Regions from separate parts of the Homo sapiens genome. Here all the other regions are linked to region 1. The links come from fine-mapping of genetic effects on gene expression. A gene starts in region 1. Each other region holds a variant in brackets. All regions are shown on one strand. Distances are between the middles of the regions.

Region 1 (9,883 bases):
TTTACTAGAGATGAGGTTTCACCAGTTTGGGCAGGCCGGTCTCAAACTCCTGACCTCAAGTGATCCACCCACCTCGGCCTCCCGAAGTGCTGGGATGACAGGTGCCTGGTCAGCAACTGTTGTTTAGACATACACATTTTATCTGCTCGTCCAGCATGGTCAGCCCTCCACTTTTTAAATTTTATTTTATTTATTTTTTTGAGACAGAGTCTCACTCTGTTGTCCAGGTTGGAGTCCAGTGGCGTGATTTCGGCTCACTGCAACCTCTACTTCCCAGGTTCGAGCAATTCTCCTGCCTCAGCTTCCCGAGTAGCTGGGATTACAGGCCCGCGTCCCCACACCTAGCTAATTTTTGTATTTTTAGTAGAGACAGGGTTTCACCATGTTGGCCAGGCTGGTCTCGAACTCCTGACCTCAGGTGATTCTCCTGCCTTGGCCTCCCAAAGTGCTGAGATTACAGGTGTGAGCCACTGCACACGGCCTTAAATTTTATTTATTATTTATTTATTTATTTATTTAGAGACTTAGTCTCACTCTGTTGCCCAGGCTGGAGTGCAGTGGCATGGTCTCGGCTCACTGCACTCCACCTCCTGGGTTCACGCCATTCTCCTGCCTCAGCCTCCCGAGTAGCTGGGACTACAGGCGCCCACCACCACTCCCGGCTAATTTTTGTATTTTTAGTAGAGATGGGGTTTCACTGTGTTAGCCAGGATAGTCTCGATCTCCTGACCTCGTGATCCGCCTGCCTCGGCCTCCCAAAGTGCTGGGATTACTTATTTTGTTTTTTGTAGAGACAGGTTCTCACTGTGTTGCCCAGGCTGGTCTTGAACTCCTGATCTCAAGTGATCTTCCCACCTCAGTCTCTCAAAGGGCTGGGATTACAGGGGTGAGCCACTGCACCCCACCTTCCCTCTACTTTTTGACGGTTTCCTTCTGCTATGAATGTGCATGTCCAGTTGTCTGCTTCTTAGAACTGATATTTACCTTCCTCATCCATCAGCCATTGGAGGAGGACTGGGACCGCTCAGATTATTGATCTGACCCATTCTTTCGGCAGGGTTTCCTGGTGGCTGTCTTCCATCACCAAAACTGGAATCAGAAGAGTTTCCATAGCCCTTTTTTTTTCCCCACATCTTTGCTGAAGCAGAGTTTTGAAAAACAAAACCACAAACTAAGCTATTCCCCAGAAGAAATCTGTAATCAAAGATAAGCTCTGCCGGGCACAGTGGCTCACGCCTTTTGGAGGCCAAGGCGGGCGGATCACCTGAGGTCAGGAGTTCTAGACCTGCCAGGCCAACATGGTAAAACCTCATCTCTACTAAAAATACAAAAATTAGCTAGATGTGGTGGTGGGTACCTGTAGTCTCAGCTACCTGGGAGGCTGAGGCAAGAGAATCGCTTGAACCTGGGAAGTAGAGGTTGCAGTGAGCCGAGATTGCACCACTGCACTCCAGCCTGGGCGACGGAGTGAGACGACCTCACAAAAATTTACATAAATAAAATGAAAAGTAAAATAAAAATACAAAAGTTGGCCGGGTGCGTTTGCTCACGCCTGTAATCCCAGCACTTTGGGAGGGTGAGGCAGGCAGATAATGAGGTAAGAAGATCGAGACCATCCTGGCTAACACGGTGAAACCCTGTCTCTACTAAAAATACAAAAAATTAGCTGTGCGTGGTGACACGCACCTGTAGTCCCAGCTATTTGGGAGGCTGAGGCAGGAGAATCACTTGAACCTGGGAGGTGGAGGTTGCAGTGAGCCGAGATCGCACCACTGCACTCCAGCCTGGGCCACAGAGTGAGACTCCATCTTGAAAAAAAAAAAAAATACAAAAGTTAGCCAGGGGTGTTGGTGGGTGCCTGTAATCCCAGCTATTTGGGAGGCTAAGGCAGAAGAATTTCTTGAACCTAGGAAACGGAGGTTGCAGTGAGCCGAGATCACACCTCTGTACTCCAGCCTGGACAACAGAGCGAGACTTTGTCTCAAAAAAAAAAAAAAAAAAAAAACTAAATAGGCCGGGAGCAGTGGCTCATGCCTATAATCCCAGCCCTTTGGGAGGCCAAGGCAGGTGGATCACTTGAGGTCAGGAGTTTGAGACCAGGCTGGCCAACATGGTGTAACCCCGTCTCTACTAAAAACACAAAAATTAGCCGGGTCTGGTGGCGTATGTCTGTAATCCCAGCTACTCGGGAGGCTGAGGCAGGAGAATCACTTAAACCTGGGAGGCAGGGGTTGCAGTGAGCTGAGATCGTGCCACTGCACTCTAGCCAGGGTGACAGAGTGAAACTCTGTCTCAAAAAATTAAAAAAGAAATTCAGCAAGTAATGAGTTAAGGAATTCGAATATTAAGGCGAGTGACAAGGAACGCCCAGGATGTGGCCCAGGATGGAGTAGGGGGGACACTCATTTAGGAGAAAGCTCAGGCCACAAGACAGGAGGAGCCAGCCTTGTTGGGGTTGAAGGGAAGAGCATTCCAGGCTGAGGGAACTGCAAGGCGTTTGCATGGGACACTATGGGATGGCTTCTGCCCTTGGTGGGCAGCCTCTGGTCTGAGGCCATTCTTTGGCCTGCCTGACTGTCTGGCAACCGGGAGGAAGCCCTGCCCTTCCTGGAGACAGAAACAAAGGTCTAGGAAATATCTGCTTCCCTTTTCCTTGAAAAACGCTTAAGGGAACGGAGGACTGGGAGGTGCCGTCTCTCTCTGCCAGCCTGCCCCCTACCATAGCCATCCCACTCCCATCTCAGAAAGTGACCCGCCATCCTCCAAAAGGCTCGGACCCTGATCAAGGAGTCATCCCCCTTGTCCCAGCACCTCCAGTTGGCCCAGCCTCCAAAACGGATGTCAAATTCAGCCCTTTCTCCAAGGACACTGCCCAGTCCAGGCCCCACTATCATTCATCTGGACTAGAACAGTCACCTCCTCTCCCATCTCCTGGCTGCAGCTCTTGAAGCCTCAACTGGGCCCCTGTGAACACTTGAGTTAGGGCAAGGTCCTTCCTCTGCTCAGAACCCTCTATACCTCCCACCTCGCTGGGCATAAAAGCCAAAGTCCTGGCCAGGCACGGTGGCTCACATCTGTTATCCCAGCACTTTGGGAGGCCAAGGGGGGCGGATCACTAGAGGTCAGGAGTTAGAGACCAACATGGTGAAACCCCATCTCTACTAAAAATACAAAAATTAGCTAGGCGTGGTGACGCACCCCTGTAGTACCAGCTACTCGGTAGGCTGAGGTGGGAGAATCGCTTGAACCTGGGAGGCAGAGTTTGCAGTGAGCCGAGATCACACCACTGTGCTCCAGCCTGGGTGACAGAACGAGACTGGGGTTCAGAAACAAACAAACAAAACAACAAAGTCCTCCTCAGGTGACAGGAACTTGCACCTATCTGCCCTGTCATCTCCCTGCCCGCTCCTCTCCTCGAATCTCTCCTTTGCTAAGCCTGCTCCAGCCACACTGTTCTCCTGGCTGTTCCTTTTTTTTTTTTTTTTTTTTTTTTTTTGAGTCTCACTCTCACCCAGGCTGGAGTGCAGTGCCTCTATCTTGGCTCACTGCAACCTCCGCCTGCCGGGTTCAAGAGATTCTCCTGCATCAGCCTCCCAAGTAGGTGGAATTACAGGTGTGCACCACCACACCCGGCTAATTTTTGTATTTTGCATAGAGATGGGGGTCTCCCTATGTTGCCCAGGCTGGTCTTGAACTCCTGGGCTCAAGTGATCCTCCCATCTCGGCCTCCCAAAATGCTGGGATTACAGGTGGGAGCCGCGCCCAGGTGGATTTTTGTCTGACTCTGTTCATTCCTGTGTCCCCAGTACCTGGAAGGACGCCAAGCACACAGTAGGCGCTTAAAAAACATTGAGCCACATGTTGAGAAAAGAACGGCACCATTGTGGCTGCAAGTGGGACTTGGGCCGCGCGGGGGAGCTCGCGCACCTCGGGCCGGGGCAAGAGCTCAGTGGAACCCGCCCGAGGAAGAACCCGTGGCGCAGGATTTTCCCAGGCCTTCTGAGGACCAGGGGCGTCCCCCGTCCCACCCTGTGACTTTGCTCAGGCCGTTCCGGGGCGGGAATTCAGAACTCCTCAGCCCCCCAAGAAAAAAATATCCCCGTGGAAATTCCTTGGGAATGACCGAGGCGGGGGAAATATGCGTCTCTGGATGGCCAGTGACTCGCAGCCCCCTTCCCCGATAGGAAGGGCCTGCGCGTCCGGGGACCCTTCGCTTCCCCTTCTGCTGCGCGACCTCCCTGGCCCCTCGGAGATCTCCATGGCGACGCCGCGCGCGCCCCACAACAGGAAAGCCTTAGGCGGCGCGGCTTGGTGCTCGGAGACTTAAGAGTACCCAGCCTCGACGTGGTGGATGTCGAGTCTTGGGGTCACACGCACAGGCGGTGGCCAAGCAAACACCCGCTCATATTTAGTGCATGAGCCTGGGTTCGAGTTGCCGGAGCCTCGCGCGTAGGGCAGGGGTTCGAGCGCCCCTTCTCCCTGCCTCGCCTCTGCGCCTGGGGGCTGCTGCCTCAGTTTCCCAGCGACAGGCAGGGATTTCGAGCGTCCCCCTCCCCTCCCTCGTCAAGATCCAAGCTAGCTGCCTCAGTTTCCCCGCGGAGCCTGGGACGCCAGCGGAGGGGCTCGGCGCGTAGGGATCACGCAGCTTCCTTCCTTTTTCTGGGAGCTGTAAAGACGCCTCCGCGGCCAAGGCCGAAAGGGGAAGCGAGGAGGCCGCCGGGGTGAGTGCCCTCGGGTGTAGAGAGAGGACGCCGATTTCCCCGGACGTGGTGAGACCGCGCTTCGTCACTCCCACGGTTAGCGGTCGCCGGGAGGTGCCTGGCTCTGCTCTGGCCGCTTCTCGAGAAATGCCCGTGTCAGCTAGGTGTGGACGTGACCTAGGGGGAGGGGCATCCCTCAGTGGAGGGAGCCCGGGGAGGATTCCTGGGCCCCCACCCAGGCAGGGGGCTCATCCACTCGATTAAAGAGGCCTGCGTAAGCTGGAGAGGGAGGACTTGAGTTCGGACCCCCTCGCAGCCTGGAGTCTCAGTTTACCGCTTTGTGAAATGGACACAATAACAGTCTCCACTCTCCGGGGAAGTTGGCAGTATTTAAAAGTACTTAATAAACCGCTTAGCGCGGTGTAGACCGTGATTCAAGCTTAGCCTGGCCGGGAAACGGGAGGCGTGGAGGCCGGGAGCAGCCCCCGGGGTCATCGCCCTGCCACCGCCGCCCGATTGCTTTAGCTTGGAAATTCCGGAGCTGAAGCGGCCAGCGAGGGAGGATGACCCTCTCGGCCCGGGCACCCTGTCAGTCCGGAAATAACTGCAGCATTTGTTCCGGAGGGGAAGGCGCGAGGTTTCCGGGAAAGCAGCACCGCCCCTTGGCCCCCAGGTGGCTAGCGCTATAAAGGATCACGCGCCCCAGTCGACGCTGAGCTCCTCTGCTACTCAGAGTTGCAACCTCAGCCTCGCTATGGCTCCCAGCAGCCCCCGGCCCGCGCTGCCCGCACTCCTGGTCCTGCTCGGGGCTCTGTTCCCAGGTGAGTCGGGGTGGGGATTGCCGTCGGGCCAGTTCTCCGAAGCCCCGGGAGGACCGGCTCCCGGGTCAGGTCATGCATGCTTAGGTAGCTGTTTATGGGAAGGAGGGGCTAGAGACAGCGATTGAAAGGCAACAGCCAGTAGGTTCGAATCCAGACCCTGCATACCTCCACGTGTGGCCTTGGGCTATAGATTGCAGCTTTAAAAAAGGGTAGGGGGTTGGAGATGGAGGGGAGGGGCGGGCCTCGTTTTGTTGCCCAGGCCGGTCTTGAACTCCGGGGGTCTAGCCTTACCTCCTGCCTCAGCCTCCCGAGTAGCTGGGATGAGAGGTGTGAACCACCGCCTTGCTTGGCTAGATTGCGTCTCTTACAGTTTCTCAGCTGTAAAACGGGAAACGTTATAGCGGCCACCTGGCAGGGTATCTTGGCCCAGCGCAGCACCTGGCCCCAGGACTCGATCATGATGGTTTGGGAACTTGGCTCTGTGCCAACCCAACAAGGCTTAAGGGACCCCCACCCCCCTCAAGATGTATATTCTGTTCCTCATCCTCTCTGCCCCTGGGGAAGTCCAGGGCTGCTTCTACTTGGGGGAATTCCAGAGCTGACTTATCCGTGGCCCAAAGCTGAGAAGTGGGACGCCCCAGCACACCCTCCCCCAGCTCCAGCCCAGCTAGGGAAGAGGGAAGGGGTCAGAGGGTCTTTCATGGTGGTGTAAGTTTGGGGAACCAGGAGGGTGGGAGATTGACAGCTTGGTTAACAGCTCAACAAAGCCTGAGATCCAGGCCAGCACGGTAGTTCATGCCAGTAATCCCAACACTTTAGGAGCCCCAGGCGGGCGAATCACTTAAGGTCAGGAGTTTGAGACCAGCCTGGCCAACATGGCAACATCCCGTCTCTACTAAAAATACAAAAATTAGCTGGCATGGTGGTGGGCGCCTGTGATCCCAGCTGCTCGGGAGGCTGAGGGAGGAAAATCCCTTAAGCCCACGAGGCTGAGGTTGCAGTGAACCAAGATTGTGCCACTGCACTCCAGCCTGGGAGACATAGCGAGATTCTGTCTCAAAAAACAAAGCGTTCTGATCCGGACTCAGACCCAGATCGCACTGCTTTCTAGCTGAGTAACCATTTCTCTCTATGAAATGGGAATGGTCCCAGAATCTCCCTTGGAGAATGTATGGAGCCAGTGTCCTCACACCCCCATCCAAGATAGAACAAATCTGAGACAGGAATCTTTGAGTGAGGCAGTGCTGGGCTCAGACATTTTTTCCCACCTTCGGAGGCAGCAGAATCTGAGGGACCTGATCCAAATAAGCCCCTTCTTTCTTTCTTTTCTTTTCTTTTTTTTTTTTTTTTTTTTTTGAGACGGAGTCTCACTCTGTCGCCCAGGCTGGAGTGCAGTGGCGTGATCTCGGCTCACTGCAACCTCTGCCTCCCAGGTTCAAACGATTCTCCTGCCTCAGCCTCCCTGAGTAGCTGGGACTACAGGCATGTGCCATCACACCCGGCTAATCACTGTGTTAGCCAGGATGGTCTCGATTTCCTGACCTCATGATCTGCCCACCCTGCCTCCCAAAGTGCTGGGATTACATGCGTGAGCCACAGTGCCCACCCCGTAAGCCCCTTCTTTCTTACCTGCAAGGTAGCCAGTTGCTACCCATCCTGTGCTGAGTTACTTGTATTAGCAAGGGATGGGGTGGCTATACTCACCCACCTTACAGATGGGGAAATTGAGGCCCAAAGAGGGGGAAACTACGTGTCTCAGGGAGTGAGGAGCCAGTCTGATTCCTGGAGGGCTGACTGTCTCCACCTGACTTCTTAGGAGGGAGGAGGGCACCAACTTCACATTAAAATCTGGTTGGACACAGTGGCTCACACCTGTAATCCTGGCATTTTGGGAGGCTTAGGCGGGAGGATCACTTGAGGCCAGGAGTTTGAGACCAGCCTTAGCAACATAGTGAGACCCCATCTCTACAAAAATGTTTTTCAGGGCCAGGCGCGGTGGCTCACACCTATAATCCCAGCACTTTGGGAGGCTGAGGCGGGCGGATTACCTGAGGTCAGGAGTTTGAGACCAGCCTGACCAACATGGAGAAACCCCGTCTCTACTAAAAGTACAAAATTACCCGGGCGTGGTGGCGCATGCCTGTAATCCCAGCTACTCGGGAGGCTGAGGCAGGAGAATCGCTTGAACCTGGGAGGCGGAGGTTGCGGTGAACTGAGATCGTGCCATTGCACTCCAGCCTGGGCAACAAGAGCTAAACTCCGTCTCAAAAAAAAAAAAATGTTTTTCAAATATTAGCCGGGTATGGTGGTGTCCTGTAGTCCCAGCTACTTGGGAGGCTGAGATGGGAGGATCACTTGAGCCCAGGAGTTCAAGGTTACAGTGAGCTATGATTGTGCCACTGTATTCCAGCCTGGGTAACAGAGGGAGACCCGTTTAAAAAAAAAAAAGTGATGGCTAAAGTCCTTCCATGGCTCCCTATTGCCCTCAGTATAAAGAACACATGTGGCTGGGCGTGGTGGTTCACGCCTGTAATCCCAGCACTTTGGGAGGCTGAGGCGGGCGGATCACTTGAGGCCAGGAGTTTGAGAGCAGGCTGGCCGACGTGGCGAAACCCCGTCTCTATTAAAAATACAAAAATTAGCTGGGCGTGGTGGTGCTTGCCTGTAATCCCAGATACTCTGGAGGCTGAGGCAGGAGAATCACTTGAACCCGGGAGGCAAAGGTTGCAGTGAGCTGAGATTGCGCCACTGCACTCCAGTCTGAGTGACAAAGCGAGACTCCATCTCAAAAAAAAAAAAAATAAAAGAACACATCTTTAGCATGGCCTTCAGTGCTCACGGGATCTTCCTGAATTAATCTCCCCCTCTTCATCCTTGCTCACTCAGCTCCAGCCACCCTGCCCCGGGACATCTGTACTTGCCTGGAACTTATTTCCCTTTTCTCCGGACAGCCAGCCCTTTCTCGTCATTTAGATCTCTGCTGAAACATTACCCTGTCACCAAAGCACTGTCTATTCTATCACCCTGTTTTGTTTTTGTCAAAGCTCATATTAACATCAGTTATTAATTATCTTGTTTGCTCATAATTTTTTTTTTTTTTTTTTTGGAGACAGAGTCTCGTTCTGTTGCTCAGGCTGGAGTGCAGTGGCACAATCTTGGCTCACTGTAACCTCCACCTCCCAGGTTCAAGTGATTCTTGTGCCTCAGCCTCCCAAATAGCTAGGACTACAGGCACGTCCCACCATGCCCAGCTAATTTTTGTATTTTTAGTGGAGACGGGGCTTTGTCATGTTGGCCAGGCTGATCTCAAATTCCTGACCTCAAGTGATCTGCCCGCCTTGGCCTCCCAAAGTGCTGGGATTACAGGCGTGAGCCACCACACCCGGCCTGCTCATGAATTTTCTCTTTAACTTCCACATCGAAGGCAAAGTATTGTCTTGTTAAGGCTGTGCCTCCAGCACCCAGCACAGGCTGGGCGCACATTCCCTTGATGAACCTGATTTGTAATGCCTGTCGCCTCTTCCCTCGTTTCTTCTAGGACCTGGCAATGCCCAGACATCTGTGTCCCCCTCAAAAGTCATCCTGCCCCGGGGAGGCTCCGTGCTGGTGACATGCAGCACCTCCTGTGACCAGCCCAAGTTGTTGGGCATAGAGACCCCGTTGCCTAAAAAGGAGTTGCTCCTGCCTGGGAACAACCGGAAGGTGTATGAACTGAGCAATGTGCAAGAAGATAGCCAACCAATGTGCTATTCAAACTGCCCTGATGGGCAGTCAACAGCTAAAACCTTCCTCACCGTGTACTGTGAGTAACTGAGCCCGGAGGGCTGGACTAGGCAGACCCGGTGGGAGAGACGTGCAGGGGCACCTGCAGAGGCCTGGGGGAATCTTTGCCACTTGCTCGTAGGGTCAAGGAGGGGCTCCTTGCAGGGCAGGTGGGGACATCCTTGGAAAGTCCCTTTGTGAATTTCTTTGGGTACAATTAAAGTATTTACAGGCTGGGTGCGGTGGCTCATGCCTGTAATCCCAGCACTTTGAGAGGCTGAGGCTGGCGGATCACCTGAGATCAGGAGTTTAAGTTTCGCCAACATGGCGAAACCCTGTCTCTGCTGAAAATACAAAAATCAGCCGGGCATGGTGTCAAGCGCCTGTAATCCCAGCTACTTGGAAGGCTGAGGCAGGAGAACGCTTGAACCTGAGAGGCAGAGATTGCAGTGAGCCGCGATCGTGCCAGTGCACTCCAGTCTGGATAACAGAGCAAGATTCCATCTCAAGAAAAAAAAAATGCCATCTCTCTATGCCTCACTCTTTGAACATATGACACGGTCCTGCTTCAGACACTTTAATAAAAGATGCAAATTAAGC
Region 2 (8,541 bases), 35 kb after region 1:
CCCCTGAGTAGGTGAGATTACAGGCACATGCCACCACACCTGCCTAATTTTTGTATTTTTAATAGAGAGGGGGTTTCACCATTTTGTCCACGCTGGTCTCGAACTCCTGACCTCAAGGGATTCGCCCACCTCAGCCTCCCAAAGTGCTGGGATTACAGGCATGAGCCACCACGCCCGACCTCCTTAACTCTTTTATTTCCTTGCACACTTTTTCTCTGTAGCCCAGCTCACAACTTAACATCCTCTTAGACATACACCTGAGGTTTTTTTTTTTTTTTTTTTTGAGAGGGAGTCTCTCTCTGTCACCCAGGATGGAATGCAGTGGTGTGCTCTCAGCTCACTGCAACCTTGCAACCACTGCCTCCCAGGTTCAAGCAATTCTCCTGCCTCAGCCTCCCGAGTAGCTGGGACTACAGACACATGCCGCCACACCTGGCTGATTTTTTGTTTTTTAGTAGAGACAGGGTTTCACCGTGTTGCCCAGGCTGGTCTCAAACTCCTGAGTTCAGGCAGTCCGCCTGCCTTAGCCTTCCAAAATGCTGGGATTACAGGCATGAGGCACCGCGTCCTGCCTCTGAGTTTTTTTTTTTTTTTTTTTTTTACTGTCTCCTAGAACATCAGCCCCAGTAGAGCAGGGATCTTTGTTCTGTTCACCACTGAGGGTCCTCATTGGGTCCTAGCACACACAGTTGCTCAATAAATGTTGAATAAGTGGGTAAAGACAGCCACGAGCTTGCAGATATGTGTTCAAGGTGTGTCCTTGCAGAGAGCTTCTCTATACTTGGCACTGGAGAGGCCTGTCGTGGGCAAGGACATAGATGTGGCGACCTCAGACTTGAGAACTCCTGGGGCAGTAGGGGAGATGGATGTGGATAATGTAACCATAAGCCTTCCTTTCTATTTTAGACTGAGTGGTCAAGGAAGGCTTCCAGACAATGGAAATTCTGATAGGTTCTAAGAGGGAGACCAGCAAGGAGCTGAACCGGAGGCTGACACAGGGTGAGAGTGGGAATGTCTATTTTATTTTTTTTTTGGAGACAGGGTCTCACTCTGTTGCTCAGGCAGCAGTGCAGTGGCACGATCGTGGCTCACTGCAGCTTCAACTTCCCAGACTCAAGTGATCCTCCCACCTCAGCCTCCCAAGCAGCTGGGAATATAGGTGCATGCCACCACATCCGGCTAATTTTTGTATTTTTGGTAGAAACGGGGTTTCACCATGTTGCCCAGGCTGGTCTTGAACTCCTGGGTTCAAGTGATCTTGCTGCCTTGGGCTCCCAAAGTGCTTGGATTACAGGTGTGAGCCTGTGAGCCACATCTGGCCTATTTTATTTTTTAATTAGTTTTTTGTTTTTGTTTTTGTTTTGAGATGGAGTCTCTGTCTCCAAGGCTGGAGTGCAGTGGCACGATCTCGGCTCACTGTAACCTCCACCTCCCAAGTAGCTGGGATTACAGGCACATGCCACCACGCCTGGCTAATTTTTGTATCTTTAGTAGAGACAGGGTTTCCCCATGTTGGCCAGGCTGGTCTCGAACTCCTGACCTCCGGTGATCCACCTGCCTCAGTTTCCCAAAGTGCTGGGATTATAGGAATGAGCCACTCTGCCTGGCTGGGCATGTGTCTTGTTTTTTTCATTCTGTAGATAACAAGCAATTGTCCTCCCTCAGCCTCCCAAGTAGCTGGTACTACAGGCGCCTGCCACTACGCCCGGCTATTTTTTGTAGTTTTAGCAGAGGTGGGGTTTCACCATGTTAACCAGTCTCTAACTCCTGACCTCAGGTGATCCTCCTGCCTTGGCCTCCCAAAGTGCTGGAATTACAGGTGTGAGCCACCAAGCCCAGCCTCAAACTCCTGAGTTTAAGTGATCCTCACACCTCAGCCTCCCTGAGTGCTGGGATTACAGGTGTGAGCCACCACACCCGGCCTGAGTCGGGGGAGGTGTCTATTTTAGTCTGAGTGGTCAAGGAAGGCTTCTCTGAAGAGCTGATGTTGGGGCCAGGCCTCCTCAAGCGATTAGAAGGTGTCAGCCATGGGGAGATGTGGAGGGAGGGTGTTTCAGGCCAAGGAAGGGTAAGATCAAATAATTCAGGGATCTGAGGGCAGAGGAATCTGGACTCCAGTTCTCCCATTCAGGGCTGCCCAGGAGAGACAAAGAGGATCTCATAAGGGTGTGTGGCTTTGTGGCTCACTCACGCCCACAGCAAGGACCATGCCCACCCTACTTTTTTTTTTTTCCCCAAGTCTCCCTCTATTACCCAGGCTGGAGTACAGTGGTACGATCACGGTTCACTGCAGTCTTGACCTCCAGGGCTCAAGTGATCCTCCCACCTCAGTGTCCTGAGTAGCTGGCACTACAGGCATGCACCACCACCCCTGGCTCATTTTTTGATTTTTTGGTAGAGACGGGGTCTCACTGTGTTACCCAGGCTGGTCTCAAACTCCTGGGCTCAAGCGATCCTCCCACCTCTGCCTTCTGAAGTGTTGGGATTACAGGTGTGAGCCACCATGCCCAGCCCGCCACCAGTCTTGACTCTCCATCCTCCCTCCCTCCCTGTGAGTGCTGGTGGCCTGTGTGTCCCGCCTGCTGAAAGATGCCTCTGACTTGGGGCTTTTGACTTCAGGCCCGGGAGACACATTTTGGCTGGATTAGGGAGATCTTAAAAGGGGGTAGGGGACACAGCAGGGGCTAAGGAGAGTGACACACTGCAGGCAGGGGTTGGGTGACAGATGAAGGATCCACTGGTATATGCTGCCAGTGTGTGCCATCTACTTGTGTGTTTTACGTGTGTCTGGTGCATGTGTCCTGTGTGGGCTGTATCTGTGTGTGACTCAGCTACGTGTCAGCATATCCCTGTCGACGTGTGTCTCTGCTGATGTGTCTGTCAGCACGCACGGCTGTCTTGCATGTGTCTTTTTTGAGATAGAGTCTCGCTCTGTCACCCAGGCTGGAGTGCAGTGGCACGATCTTGGCTCATTGCAACCTCAACCTCCCAGGTTCAAGCGATTCTCCTGCCTGAGCCTCCCAAGTAGCTCGGATTACAGGCACATGCTACCACGCCTGGCTAATTTTTGCATATTTAGTAGAGACGGGGTTTCATCATGTTGGCCAGGCTGGTCTCGATCTCCTGACCTCAGGTGATCCACCTGCATCAGCCTCCCAAAGTGCTGGGATTACAGAAATGAGCCACTGTGCCTGGCTAGACATGTGTCTTTTTTTTTCCCTTCTGTATATAACAGGGTCTCACTATGTTGCCCAGGCTGGTCTCAAACTCGTGGCCTCAAGCAATCCTCCTGCCTCAGCCTCCCAAAGTGTTGGGATTACAGGCGTGAGCCACTGCACCCGGCTTGTGTGTGTCTTTCTGTATCTGTTGTGTGTGTCTGTGGGTAGTGGCTGTTTCCCTGCATGGGACATTGTGGTAAATGTGGCTAATTCCCTGTGTGGGGGCTGCTGCCTGTGGATAAGACTGTGTCTCTGTGCATGCGCACGTGTGTGCACGCCCCTCACAACCCCAACGAGAAAACACCTGTCCACCTTCCTGGGCTGGCACAGGGGCACAGGAGGCGGGATCCCAAATCACAGGCTTTTTCTCTCGGCATATCTCTGTACTTTATTGTCCCTGCTGTAACAATGCTCATCCTTCCTGAGAGCGTCTCCTGAGGGGGCCTCGGCCAAGGCTGACTGGAGAAGGGGCTGGTGACCCCTAGCAGGCTCTGCCACCTGAGGCCTGGGTCTTCCCCCGGGATCCTTGAATCTGGAGATGGCAGAGAGGAGGCAGGCCGGCTCTTTCCCCAATCCTCCTAGGAGAGCTGCTTCTGCCCATTCTCCCACTGGTGAAACGGAGGCAGAAGCAGCAGCTCAGCAGGGTGAAGCTGGGTTTAACCTTCCTGAATGGGGTCCAGGGACACTCCACATCTGCCACATAGCCTCTTGGGCTGGACATTTTTCCTGGGCACCAGCCAGCAGCTGGAGCAGCGAGTGCCGTATTTCTTGTACCTAGGGTTGGGGGACAAGAAACTGCCATTTAGGATGCAGTGGGGGCCCGGAAACCGCCACAAGGAAACCACTTTTCCCAAGAGGTAGGTGTTTTGCTTTTTGCTTTCCCCACAGGCCATCCTGGTTACACGTGGACTGATTTGGGGACCCCCGCCCCAACTCCCTCCTCCATTCTAAGGACCTGATCCCACAGGCGTTGCAGAGAGGGGTCCCATCTTCAGCGTCTCTCCAGAGCGGGGTCCTCTGGGTCCGACAGGAAGCACAGCGCCGGGGCTCTGAAGGGTCAGAGGTCAAAGGGCAGGGGTCAGAGGCCAAGCATGTGAGCTCGGGATGCCTGTGCGGAGTCGGGCATTTTGTGGGGGTCTCAGTAAAGGCCCCACCTAGCTCTGGATCAGCCCTGGGAGTTGCCAGCTCTAAGCCACAGCAAAGCCAGGAAGGGAGACAGATGGCAGCATTCCGCAGAGGAGGAAGCTGGGGGTGGGGGTGACTCAGCCCAAGTGGAGGGGGGTGCTGCGACTCCTCCCTGAGGGCTCTAAATGGGGAAGCAAGATGGAGAAGG[G/A]GGGGGCAGGGAGAAAGGCAGGGAAGACAGGAAATTGGCCCCCAAAATATTTATAGCTCTTGGGTTTTCAGGACTCACCCAGGGCCTCGCTGCCTGCTGAGTGGGCCTCGGTGCCTCCTGGGTGGGCTGCAGGGCCCCCAACAGCATCTGCAGGGGATTCCTGAGAACGGCTACTGCAGGGCAGGCTGTGGGGCAGACAAGGTATTAGCACTGGGGGGGATCTGTAGCTTGTCCCCAACAGCCCTCCGAAATGAAGATTTAGTATCAAGGTATCAGCCATCCCCCGAGGAGGCAACTAATATCTGAATGGCCTGGCTTTGCCTCTCATTAGTAATATTATTATTATTATTATTATTATTTTTGCAGATGGAGTCTCGCTCTGTTGCCCAGGCTGGAGTGTAGTGGTGTCATCTCAGCTCACTACAACCTCCACCTCCCGGGTTCAAGCAATTCTTGAGCCTCAGCCTCCCAAGCAGCTGGGACTACAGGCGCGCGACACCACGCCCAGCTAATTTTTGTATTTTTAGTACAGACGGGGTTTCACCATGTTGGCCAGGCTGGTCTCGAACTCCTGACCTCAAGTGATCCACCCACCTCGGCCTCCCAAAGTGCAGGGATTACAGGCATGAGCTACCGTGCCCGACCTAATTATTATTATTATTATTTGAAAAATAGTAAGCACAGGGACAGCCTGCCAGGTTCCAATCCCAGTTCTCCATGTCCTTGCTGTGTGAGCCTGGACACATTATCTCCTACTCTGTGCCTCAGTTTCCTCATCTGTAAAATGGGCTTCCCAATACAACAGTTTTTTTTTCTTTGAAAATTTGATTTATTGATTTTTAAAAAGAGATGGGAGTCTGGGCAATATAGGGAGACCCCGTCTCTACAAACAAAAAAAATAGCCAGGAGTGGTGGTACAGGCCTGCACTCCCAGCTAGTTGGGAGGCTGAGGAGGGAGGATGGCTTGGGCCTGGGAGGTCCAGGCTGCAGTGAGCCATGATTGCGCCACTGCACTCCACCCTGGGTGACAGAGCAAGACCCTGTCTCAAAAACAAACAAACAAACAAAAGCAAAAAAAAGCAGCCAGGCATGGTGGCGGCTCACTCCTGTAATCCCAACACTTTGGGAGGGCAAGGCAGATGGATCACCTGAGGTCAAGAGATCGAGACCATCCCGGCCAACATGGCAAAACCCCATCTCTACTAAAAATACAAAAATTAGCCAGGCGTGGTAGCAGGCACCTGTAATCCCAGCTACTCCAGAGGCTGAGGCAGGAGAATCGTTTGAATCCGGGAGGCAGAGGTTGCAGTGAGCCGAGATTGTGTCATTGCACTCCAGCCTGAACGACAGAGTGCAACTCCATCTCAAAAAAAAAAAAAAATATTGTTTTGGCGGCATGATTAAAAAAGTCATAATTATAATTTTTATAATAACAATAAATAGGTAAAAATTAGAGCTGGGGGTCATACTATGTTGCCCAGGCTGGTCTTGAACTCCTGGGCTCATGCAATCCTCCCACCTTGGCCTCCCAAAGTGCTGGGATTACAGGTGTGAGCCACCAGGCCCAGCTTCCCAAAGCTTTTTTTTTTTTTTTTTTAAGGGGATGGAGTCTTGCTCTGTCACCCAGGCTGGAGTGCAGTGGTGCCATCTCTGCTCAGTGCAACCTCCACCTCCTGGGTTCAAGCGATTCTCCTGCCTCAGCCTCCCAAGTAGCTGGGATTACAGGTGCCCATTACCATTCCCAGCTAGTTTTTTTTTTTTTTTTGAGACTGAGTCCCACTCTGTGGCTCAGGCTGGAGTGAGGTGGCGCTATCTCTGCTTACTGAAGACTTCACCTCCTGAGTTCAAGCGATTCTCCTGCCTCAGCCTCCTGAGCAGCTGGGATTACAGGCACCCACTACAACGCCCAGCTAATTTTTTGTATTTTTAGTAGACATGGGGTTTCACTATGTTGGCCAGGCTGATCTCAAACTCCTGACTTCAGGTGATCTGCTCGCCTTGGCCTCCCAAAGTGATGGGATTATAGGCGTGAGCCACTGTGCCCGGCCTCCCCAGGCTTTTGAATGAGCCCATACACATAAAATACTGCCTGTTAACCTCTTATTGTTGTCACTACCAACAAATAGTAGCTGTTAGCATTATTGGGAAAAATCACCGCAGCCGCAGCTGCAGCCTAAGCAAGGCCAGGCCTGATTCCTAAAGAGACCAGGTCTCACATTGGGAGTGGGGAGCCACTGAGTCAGGAGCGGCAGGACTGTATCTGGCACCAGCTCAAGTTGTCAACCAGAGACTGGGCCACGTGTAACGTAGAGCACAGGTGAGGGTCCACACCGACGCCAGAGAGCACCCCTACCTCCCACACTGGTGTTTGCGTTGTAACTGGGAGAAAGGGCGGCCTGGCCCCAGCCGGCCCCTACCTGTACGTGGGGATGATCTGCAGGCTGGAGTCCGGCTTTATCTGAAACTTCAGAGTCACCCCCTCGAACCCAGGGTCCACTCTCTCGGTGCCCCGGCAGGGGTTCAGCTGTTTCCGGGGCCTTCTCTGGGGTGGGGCCGAGGGAGTCCCCGGGGGCTGCAGACGGCGGCCCTTTTGGCTGATCCTGGTCTGTGTGTCCTTGGAATCCCTGTCCAGCAGCAGGCGGCCCTGAGTCCCCAGAGCCATCGGGTCCCAGCAAGGCCCCAGGACCGGGGTGTCCTGGGCAGGGGACTGACCCAGCCTCTCCACTGTCTCTTGGAGGAAGCACAGGGCGGTGACCGACTCCTGGCATGCAGGCCAGAGGGACCTGGGGAGAAGGGCAGTGGGGTCACGTTTTCTTGGGTGACTCCTGGGTTTAGCCGGCCAGGGGGTTCCAACTTGGGCCGGCTCTTTGTGTACCCTTGGACAGGCTACACACCCCACCTGAGGTTCAGTCATTTCTAACTCTGGGTGGAAGGTTTAAGAGTTGCAGTAATTGCAACTCACCTCGCCCACTGTGGGCCTCCCAGGCACGCCCAGCCCTCCACATCAATCAACCCCTTACGGCACCCGTAGATCACCCAGGCAGGGACCGCCCTAGGTGACCGAGGCAGGATATCAAGCCTCTGGCTGCAGGATCGAGAAAAAGGTTACTTTTTTTCTTTGTGTTTCTTTTAGAGACCGAGCCTCACTCTGTACCCCCGCCTGGAGTGCAGGGGCGTGATCAGGACTCAGTGCAGCCTAGAACTCCTGGGCTCGACCGATCCTTCCGCCTCAGCCTCCCGAGTAGCTGGGACTTACAGGCACGCGCCACCACGCCGCTGGCTTGCCATAATATGATTACGATTTTTATCATTTTCATTATTATTGAGTTGCCCTCCATAACCCCTGGATGATCCCTGGGGAGTGCCTACATCAGCCCCAGAGACATGGAATTGCATGGCCTCTGATCCCTAGATGACCCCAAGTGTCTCTGGGCACCAGAACCTCTTTGTAAGTTTCAGTAACTATTATAAAATTGCCACTTCTCGATAACCCCAGCAAAGAGAGGTCATGACCCCTTGATCACTGAGCCAGGTGGTGAAGTGCTAGCGGGGTCCGGGGAATGGGGTTTGGCCTTACGCACCTCTCACTGATTCTGCAGCATCCTGGGGTCCTCGGCTTCTCCTGGGAGGGGGATCCTCCCAGCCGCTCCAGGTTCAGACAGGGCGGCGCCAGAAGCTTTGCTGGCATTGAGGAGTCCGGGATTGGCTCGGCCTCCATTGCGCCCCAGCCCAGCCCCCTCCCTAATTTCACCCGGCCCTGTCCCGCTGGGCCCACCCGATGAAACCCACCTGGGAGGGGCGGGACCTGTGTGGTGGGAGCGCTCTTGGTAGAGGATGCGATGAGCCCCAGCTGAGAGCGACCAGCCTCGGCGGCACCTTTCCTCTTTCTGGCTTTTTTCAGGTCATCCGCGCACCCCTGCGTGGCAAGGGCGGCCTGGACCCCACCAAATCCCTCCGCAGCTGCCGGGGCGGGGCCTTCCACGCTAGCCC
Region 3 (8,820 bases), 26 kb after region 1:
AGGCCCGTGAGCTGCACTCTGGACGGACTGTTTCCAGCCTCAGAGGCCAGGGTCTACCTCGCACTGGGGGACCAGAATCTGAGTCCTGATGTCACCCTCGAAGGGGACGCATTCGTGGCCACTGCCACAGCCACAGCTAGCGCAGAGCAGGAGGGTGCCAGGCAGCTGGTCTGCAACGTCACCCTGGGGGGCGAAAACCGGGAGACCCGGGAGAACGTGACCATCTACAGTAAGGAAGGAGGCGGGGTCTCCGCGGCTCCGAGGTGGGACCAGAGGAATGCGAAGGCGGGGCGAAGAGTGGGCGGGACCTCAGTACCGGAACAGGCGTGGCCCGAGGGGCGGGGCAGGTGGGGGCGGAGACGTAATCGCTGGGGAGGAGGAGCCTGTACAGCCTGAGAGGCGGGGCGCCGTACCCTAGTTCGTTCTCAGCACCCCGAGGATTCGGGCAGATAAGGGGCGGGCCTTGACCGGAGGGAGGGGTATGGTCAGTATACTACGACCAAATGCTCCGCCCCCAGGCTTCCCGGCACCACTCCTGACCCTGAGCGAACCCAGCGTCTCCGAGGGGCAGATGGTGACAGTAACCTGCGCAGCTGGGGCCCAAGCTCTGGTCACACTGGAGGGAGTTCCAGCCGCGGTCCCGGGGCAGCCCGCCCAGCTTCAGCTAAATGCCACCGAGAACGACGACAGACGCAGCTTCTTCTGCGACGCCACCCTCGATGTGGACGGGGAGACCCTGATCAAGAACAGGAGCGCAGAGCTTCGTGTCCTATGTGAGTTGGTGATAACCCCTCGCCCCCCACCTTCTGGTGACTTCCAAGGACCCGCCTGCTCCCTCACCGTGTCGTGGAGGCGGAGCCATTTCTTACGTCTAAGCCTCTGTAACCCCACGCCCTGCCCGCAGACGCTCCCCGGCTAGACGATTCGGACTGCCCCAGGAGTTGGACGTGGCCCGAGGGCCCAGAGCAGACGCTGCGCTGCGAGGCCCGCGGGAACCCAGAACCCTCAGTGCACTGTGCGCGCTCCGACGGCGGGGCCGTGCTGGCTCTGGGCCTGCTGGGTCCAGTCACTCGGGCGCTCTCAGGCACTTACCGCTGCAAGGCGGCCAATGATCAAGGCGAGGCGGTCAAGGACGTAACGCTAACGGTGGAGTGTGAGTGGGGGTGCGCAGGGTGCATTTCTATCTGGTTCAAGGTCTGGAGGGTGGCCAGCCTCCAGGGAAGAGTAGGAGTAGGGTATGAGGTGTCCCTTTGGGTGAGGTTTTGGGAAAGGGAAGAGGCTGGTTAGTGGGGTTGGAGAAAGATCTTGGAGGATGGAAGGGACCGGGTGGGCGTGCCCCTAGCCTAGGGCGTGGTATTTGGGCGGAGTCGTGGAAAGGCGGGCAGTCCAGAGTGTTTAAGTTTTTAGACGAAAAAGGCGCCACTGGTGGCTCAGGAAGCTCCCAGACAGAGTGCATGCCTCGACTAGCGTGACACCTCCTTGGATCGGCGTCCAAGGGTTATGCAGGGACAACACTTCGTGGAAGCCTTGCCGCGCCAAGGAGGGTCTAGGGACGTCAGATTTGCCCCCAAACCCCAAAGCCAACAATACACTCCCTCCTCCAGACGCACCAGCGCTGGACAGCGTGGGCTGCCCAGAACGCATTACTTGGCTGGAGGGAACAGAAGCCTCGCTGAGCTGTGTGGCGCACGGGGTACCGCCGCCTGATGTGATCTGCGTGCGCTCTGGAGAACTCGGGGCCGTCATCGAGGGGCTGTTGCGTGTGGCCCGGGAGCATGCGGGCACTTACCGCTGCGAAGCCACCAACCCTCGGGGCTCTGCGGCCAAAAATGTGGCCGTCACGGTGGAATGTGAGTAGGGGCACCGCGGAGTTAGGCAGGATCTGTGGGACAACCCCGGCTGGACTTCCTGGCCCCCGTGTGAGCCCCTGCAATCCTGTTTCCCAGATGGCCCCAGGTTTGAGGAGCCGAGCTGCCCCAGCAATTGGACATGGGTGGAAGGATCTGGGCGCCTGTTTTCCTGTGAGGTCGATGGGAAGCCACAGCCAAGCGTGAAGTGCGTGGGCTCCGGGGGCGCCACTGAGGGGGTGCTGCTGCCGCTGGCACCCCCAGACCCTAGTCCCAGAGCTCCCAGAATCCCTAGAGTCCTGGCACCCGGTATCTACGTCTGCAACGCCACCAACCGCCACGGCTCCGTGGCCAAAACAGTCGTCGTGAGCGCGGAGTGTGAGCGAGGCCCAGGCGGGTAGGGAGCAGGGGTGCCCCACGGTCCAGGCACTCCCTGACATCCCCCATGGCTGCTTTGCAGCGCCACCGGAGATGGATGAATCTACCTGCCCAAGTCACCAGACGTGGCTGGAAGGGGCTGAGGCTTCCGCGCTGGCCTGCGCCGCCCGGGGTCGCCCTTCCCCAGGAGTGCGCTGCTCTCGGGAAGGCATCCCATGGCCTGAGCAGCAGCGCGTGTCCCGAGAGGACGCGGGCACTTACCACTGTGTGGCCACCAATGCGCATGGCACGGACTCCCGGACCGTCACTGTGGGCGTGGAATGTGAGTGGGGGCAGCACCGGATGGAGGGGACACGGTCCTCGGAAGAATGACTCGCAGCGGTGGGAGCATTCAAGGGCACCTCTCCCAATCCCATTCTCGGGGACAGGGAATTCCAGCCTAAACCAGGGGGTAATGAAAATTCTAGCCAGGCGCAGTGGCTCAGGTCTGTAATCCCAACACTTTGGAAGGTTGAGGCGGATGAATCACTTGAGGCCAGGAGTTCGAGACCAGCCCGGCCAACATGGCGAAAACCCGTCTCTACAAAAATTAGCCGGTCGTGGTGGTGGGCGCCTGTGGTCCCAGCTACTTGGGAGGCTGAGGCAGGAGAATCGCTTGAGCCTGGGAGGCAGAGGTTGCAGGGAGCCGAGATCCCGCCACTGCACTCCAGCCTGGGCAACAGAGTGAGACTCTTTCTTAGAAAAACAGAAAAAGAAAATTATAGGGAATAGGAGCACGGCCCTCCTCAAATCCTGGATTAGAACACTGACCTGGGCTTCACCTCCTTCCATTCGGTGAAGAAGGGCGAGGAATTTTAGCCGCAACAGCAGCCTGATTGTCGGGGAAGGAGGCTCTGATAGGAGGCAGGATCCTCTTCTGCCCATCAGAGGCGCGGTGGTCTCCCATCGATCGTTGTGGGCCGGAGCAGGGCATTTGATCAGTGGCTGGGCCGGCGCTAAGCCCCACTTCACCTTCTGTGCCCTTCAGACCGGCCAGTGGTGGCCGAACTTGCTGCCTCGCCCCCTGGAGGCGTGCGCCCAGGAGGAAACTTCACGTTGACCTGCCGCGCGGAGGCCTGGCCTCCAGCCCAGATCAGCTGGCGCGCGCCCCCGGGGGCCCTCAACATCGGCCTGTCGAGCAACAACAGCACACTGAGCGTGGCAGGCGCCATGGGAAGCCACGGCGGCGAGTACGAGTGCGCAGCCACCAACGCGCACGGGCGCCACGCGCGGCGCATCACGGTGCGCGTGGCCGGTAAGTGGCAGCTGGGGAGAGGCGGGGCGAGGTATCTGAGAGGGGGCGTGACCTGGGTCTTGGGGCGGCCGGCCCCGCCTGCCTCCCTCTCGGTCCCGGTAGACTAGACGGAAGTGGGACAGAGTAGAAGTCAAAGGTGCCTTAGCGGGTGGGGCTGTTGATCGCACTTTGAGGGGTGGGAGATGGAGGTGGCAGGGGGACTGAATTCAAGGGGAGGGACCCTCCGGGGCTGTCACTGCTGCAGGAAAGGACTTTAAAACTTGGGCTGGATTCTGCGTGGTGGAAACTTGACCCAATTCACAATCCACTGTGGGGAAGATTGGGGAGGGACCAAAGTCATTGGATGTTGGAGGGAGAGAGGGGTCAAGATCGCCTTCTCTCACTTCCTGAAGCTCCTGGGGCTGGGTTCTCTCTGGGGTCGGGGGAACCTGACCTGGTCCTGCCGGTCCTCATTTTTTGGGGGATGGGGAGAGTTGACTTGTCGCCAGGGGGCTAAGTGTGGTCACGGGTTTATATCCCCATGGGCTGAAGTGCGATATAAATCGGGACTCGGGTCGCCCTGGCACTGGGAGTGGCCTTATTGCATGGGTTGTCTCCCTTCTCCCAAGGCCAGACAGTGAGCTCCCCGGGGCATGAGGACTGACTTCGTGCCTGTGGGAGTGCGGGGGGCGGTGGGAGAAGCCCCCCGGAGCTTGGCCACCCTCCGCGAGGGTCTCCACCCCGCAGGTCCGTGGCTATGGGTCGCCGTGGGCGGCGCGGCGGGGGGCGCGGCGCTGCTGGCCGCGGGGGCCGGCCTGGCCTTCTACGTGCAGTCCACCGCCTGCAAGAAGGGCGAGTACAACGTGCAGGAGGCCGAGAGCTCAGGCGAGGCCGTGTGTCTGAACGGAGCGGGCGGCGGCGCTGGCGGGGCGGCAGGCGCGGAGGGCGGACCCGAGGCGGCGGGGGGCGCGGCCGAGTCGCCGGCGGAGGGCGAGGTCTTCGCCATACAGCTGACATCGGCGTGAGCCCGCTCCCCTCTCCCCGCGGGCCGGGGGACGCCCCCCAGACTCACACGGGGGCTTATTTATTGCTTTATTTATTTACTTATTCATTTATTTATGTATTCAACTCCAAGGGCGTCACCCCCATTTTCTACCCATCCCCTCAATAAAGTTTTTATAAAGGAACTCCCTGTCTCCGCTTCTGTTTCTGCAAGGTGGAACAAGCCCAGGGTTCCAGTCGTGACCTCCCGAGTTATTCATTCAAAAAGCGATTTTTGAGAGGGCCTGGGGTGGTGGCTTAGGCCTGTAATCCCAGGACTTGTGGGAGG[C/G]CCAGGTGGGAGGATCCCTTGCACCCAAGAGTTTCAGACCAGCCTGGGCAACATAGGGAGACCCTACAAAAAATATTTTTCAAAAATTAGCCAAGGCCGGTCGCGGTGGCTCATGCGTGTAATCCCAGGACTTTGGAAGGCCGAGGCGGCCAGATCACGAGGTCGAGGTCATGAGATCGAGACCATCCTGGCCAATATGGTGAAACCCTGTCTCTACTAAAAATACAAAAATTAGCTGGGCATGGTGGTGCGCGCCTGTAGTCCCAGCTATTCGGGAGGCTGAGGCAGGAGAATCGCTTTAACCCCGGAGGCAGAGGTTGCAGTGAGCCGAGATCGTGCCACTGAACTCCAGCCTGGCGACAGAGCGAGATTCCGTCTTAAAAAAAAAACCAGGCGTGGTGGCTCACGCCTGTAATCCCAGCACTTTGGGAGGCCGAGGCGGGCGGATCACGAGGTCGGGAGATCGAGACCATCCTCGCTAACACGGTGAAACCCCGTCTCTACTAAAAATACAAAAAAAAAAAAAAAAAAAAAATTAGCCGAGCGTGGTGGCGGGCGCCTGTAGTCCCAGCTACTCAGGAGGCTGAGGCAGGAGAATGGCATGAACCCGGGGAGCAGAGCTTGCAGTGAGCCGAGATCGCGCCACTGCACTCCACCCTGGCAGACAGCAAGACTCCGTCTCAAAAAAAAAAAAAAAAATTAGCCAGGGCCGAGCACAGTACTCTCGCTTGAATCCCAGAACTTTGGGAAACTAAGGCGGGGGGGGGGGGTCACTTGAGGTCAGGAGTTCGAGACCACCCTGGCCAACGTGGTGAAACACCTTCTCTACCAAAAATACAAAAAAATTAAGGCCGGGTGAAGTGGCTCACGTCTGTAATCCCAGCACTTTGCGAGGCTGAGGCGGGCGGATCATGGGGTTAGAAGATCAAGACTGTCCTGGCTAACATGGTGAAACCCCGTCACTACTAAAAACACAAAAATTAGCCGGGCGTGGTGGCACATGCCTGTAGTCCCAGCTACTCAAGAGGCTGAGGCAGGAGAATCGCTTTAACCCCGGAGGCAGAGGTTGCAGTGAGCCAAGATCGCACCACTGCACTCCAGCCTGGGCAATAGAGCGAGACTCTGTCTCAAAAAAAAACCAAAAACAAAAACAAAAAAATACAAAAATTTAGCTGGGCTGTAGTGGCACACGCCCTGTAATCCCAGCTACTCGTGAGGCTGAGGCAGGAGAATTGCTAGAACCCGGGAGGTAGAGATCTTGCCATTGCACTCCAGCCTGGGCAACAGAACTAGACTCTGTCTCAAAAAAAAAAAAAAAAAAAAAAAAGTGTTTTTTGAGGGGGCTGGGCATGGTGGCTCAAGCCTGTAATCCCAGGACTTTTGGGAGGCCCAGGTGGGAGGATCCCTTGTGCCCACGAGTTTCAGACCAGCCTGGGCAACATAGCGAGACCCTACAAAAAAACATGTTTCAAAAAAAAATTTTTTTTTTTGAGATGGAGTCTCGCTCTGTCGCCCAGGCTGGACAGCAGTGGCACTATCTCTGCTCACTGCAAGCTCCGTCTCCCGGGTTCATGCCATTCTCCTGCCTCAGCCTCCCAAGTAGCTGGGATTACAGGCGCCTGCCACCACACCCAGCTAATTTTTTTTTGTATTTTTAGTAGAGATGGGATTTCACCGTGTTCGCCAGGATGGTCTCTATTCCTGACCTCGAGATCCACCCGCCTCAGCCTCCCAAAGTGCTGGGATTACAGGCGTGAGCCACCGCGCCCGGCCTCAAAAAAAAAATTTTTTTTTTGAGATGGAGTCTTGCTCTGTCACCCAGGCTGGAGTGCTGTGGTGTGATCTTGGCTCACTGCAACCTCTGCCTCCTGGGTTCAAGCAATTCCCCTGCCTTGGCTTCCCAAATAGCTGGGACTATAGGCATGCACCACCACACCCAGCTAATTTTTGTATTTTTAGTAGAGACAGGGTTTCACCATGTTGGCCAGGCTGGTCTCGAACTCCTGACCTAAGGTGATCCACCTGCCTCGGTCTCCCAAAGTGCTGGGATTACAGCTGTAAGCCACCATGCCTGGTGTATTTTTCAAAAATTAGCCAGACATGGTGGTGCATGCCTGTAGTCCCAGCTACTTGGGAGGCTGAGGCAGGAGGATCCTTTGAGCCTAGGAGGTCAAAGCCACTTCCAGCTATGATATCGTCATTGTGCTCCAGCCCAGGTGACAGAACCAGACCCTGTCTCTAAAAACAAACAACGAAAAAATCCAAAAACTTTTTTTGAACACCTACTATGCATCAGGCACAATCTAAGCTGTCTTTTTCTTTTTCTTTTTTTTTTTTTTTTGAGACGGAGTCTCTCTGTCGCCCAGGCTGGAGTGCAGTGGTGTAATCTCAGCTCACTGCAAGCTCTGCCTCCCACGTTCAAGCGATTTTCCTGCCTCAGCCTCCTGAGTAGCTGGGATTACAGGCGCGCGCCACCACTACGCCCGGCTAATTTTTGTATTTTTAGTAGAGACAGGGTTTCACCATGTTGGTCAGGCTAGTCTGGAACTACTGACCTCGTGATTCACCTGCCTCGGTCTCCCAACGTGCTGGAATTACAAGCCTGAGCCACTGTGCCTGGCCCGGCTGGCTGTCTTTTCTCAGTGTGACCTAGAGCTCGTCCTCTCTCAGTGCCTGTTTTCTGCTCTCTTCACACCCTTGGGCAGGGGTGGGGGCCTCACTCCTTCCTCCTACTTATCTCTTCCACCCAGCACTGCCCTCTGATCCGGGTCACTCTTGGAGGTGGGGGCTAGGTGCTTCCCCCAGGCCTGGTTACCGGCAGAGCTGAGGCCGCCTTGCCAGGGTGGGTGGAGGCCCTCTCCGTTGTGCCCCTGCCCTGAGACTTCGGTGAGACCTTCCTGGGCAGGCACTGGCTGATGCTATGGGTGTCAGCCCTTAGCATGTCCTCCCTGTTAAAGGGGGCACCCCTGCCCCGCCCTCAATGCCTCCTTTGTCCTGTGTCCACCCACAGTGCTTCAGTTTACCCCCACCCTGCCTTTCCACTCAGCCCATCATGATTCAGAACAGACACACACAGGGTATCCGCTGCAACCCCCACTACACGGCACCTTCCCCCCTCATCCCCAACAGCATAAGGCACAGCAGCTGGGCCTCCTCCCCACAGCCTCCTCCTCTGCCCCTCCTCCCTCAAAAGCAGGAACACGGAGCCCTAGAGAAGGAAGCCAGTCCCATGCAAACATGTAATGAGCAAAGATGAGACGGGGAAATGGCACAAGAGGGCAGGCCAGTGCTCGGTGCTGGAGCCAGGGGCCAGGTATAACACCCAAAAAGGCACCAGCCAGGTGCAGTCCCTGCCACTAACAGCACCTCACCTTTTCTGCCTGTGCCCTCCCTACTTAATGATCTCTCTCCGCTCCTACTGACCTCAAGGTCTCTTTCAGAGCCTTCAGATGAGATATTTATTTTAGTAGGTTGGTGCAAAAGTAATTGCTGTTTTTGCCATTGAAAGTAATGGCAGGCAGGGCATGGTGGCTCACGCCTGTAATCCCAGCACTTTGGGAGGCCGAGGTGGGCAGATCACGAGGTCAGGAGTTCAAGACCAGCCTGGCTAACATGGTGAAACCCTGTCTCTACTAACAATACAAAAAAAATTAGCCGGACATGGTGGCACACCCCTGTAGTCTCAGCTACTTGGGAGGCTGAGGCAGGAGAACTGCTTGAACCCTGAAGCGGAGGCTGCAGTGAGCTGAAATCACGCCACTGCACTCCAGCCTGGGCCACAGAGTGAGACTGTCTCAGAGGAAAAAAAAAAAAAAAAAGTAATGGCAAAAACTGCAATTACTTTTTCTTTTTCTTTCTGTTTTTTTTTTTGTTTGTTTGTTTGTTTGTTTGTTTGTTTGAGACGGAGTCTCACTGTGTGGCCCAGGCTGGAGTGCAGTGGCGCAATCTTGGCTTACTGCAGCCTCCGCCTCCCAGGTTCAAGTGATTCTCTC

What was found.
Region 2: its variant is fine-mapped to the expression of ICAM1 in whole blood (TOPMed, PIP above 0.99).
Region 3: its variant is fine-mapped to the expression of ICAM1 in blood mononuclear cells (TOPMed, PIP above 0.99).

Annotation. Positions count from the first base shown.
Region 1 is chr19:10,265,706-10,275,588 of GRCh38, forward strand. It overlaps ICAM1 (intercellular adhesion molecule 1), which reads left to right and starts at 5,415. Exons shown (of 7, transcript NM_000201.3): 1 at 5,415-5,521; 2 at 9,060-9,323. The coding sequence starts at 5,455. LIMASI (lncRNA inflammatory and mucous response associated, antisense to ICAM1) reads right to left here. Exons shown (of 4, transcript XR_007067138.1): 2 at 985-1,089. RefSeq lists a silencer at 2,328-2,622 and enhancers at 4,977-5,066, 5,977-6,216.
Region 2 is chr19:10,301,217-10,309,757 of GRCh38, forward strand. ZGLP1 (zinc finger GATA like protein 1) reads right to left here. Exons shown (of 5, transcript NM_001409033.1): 1 at 8,133-8,541; 2 at 6,969-7,334; 3 at 4,630-4,736; 4 at 4,174-4,267; 5 at 3,587-3,992. The coding sequence starts at 8,269. The coding sequence ends at 3,875. It overlaps FDX2-ZGLP1 (FDX2-ZGLP1 readthrough), which reads right to left. Exons shown (of 9, transcript NR_176052.1): 5 at 8,133-8,541; 6 at 6,969-7,334; 7 at 4,630-4,736; 8 at 4,174-4,267; 9 at 3,587-3,992. Among named protein-coding and RNA genes, the nearest start is that of ZGLP1, 4.3 kb to the right of the region's middle. RefSeq lists an enhancer at 3,646-4,845. The variant G/A (reference allele first, on the strand shown) is at 4,552.
Region 3 is chr19:10,292,094-10,300,913 of GRCh38, forward strand. It overlaps ICAM5 (intercellular adhesion molecule 5), which reads left to right. Exons shown (of 11, transcript NM_003259.4): 4 at 1-229; 5 at 519-773; 6 at 905-1,153; 7 at 1,605-1,850; 8 at 1,947-2,225; 9 at 2,308-2,547; 10 at 3,253-3,519; 11 at 4,246-4,685. The coding sequence ends at 4,523. Among named protein-coding and RNA genes, the nearest start is that of ICAM5, 6.6 kb to the left of the region's middle. RefSeq lists enhancers at 1-706, 7,541-7,790, silencers at 334-433, 7,470-7,634 and a cis regulatory region at 7,349-8,181. The variant C/G (reference allele first, on the strand shown) is at 4,829.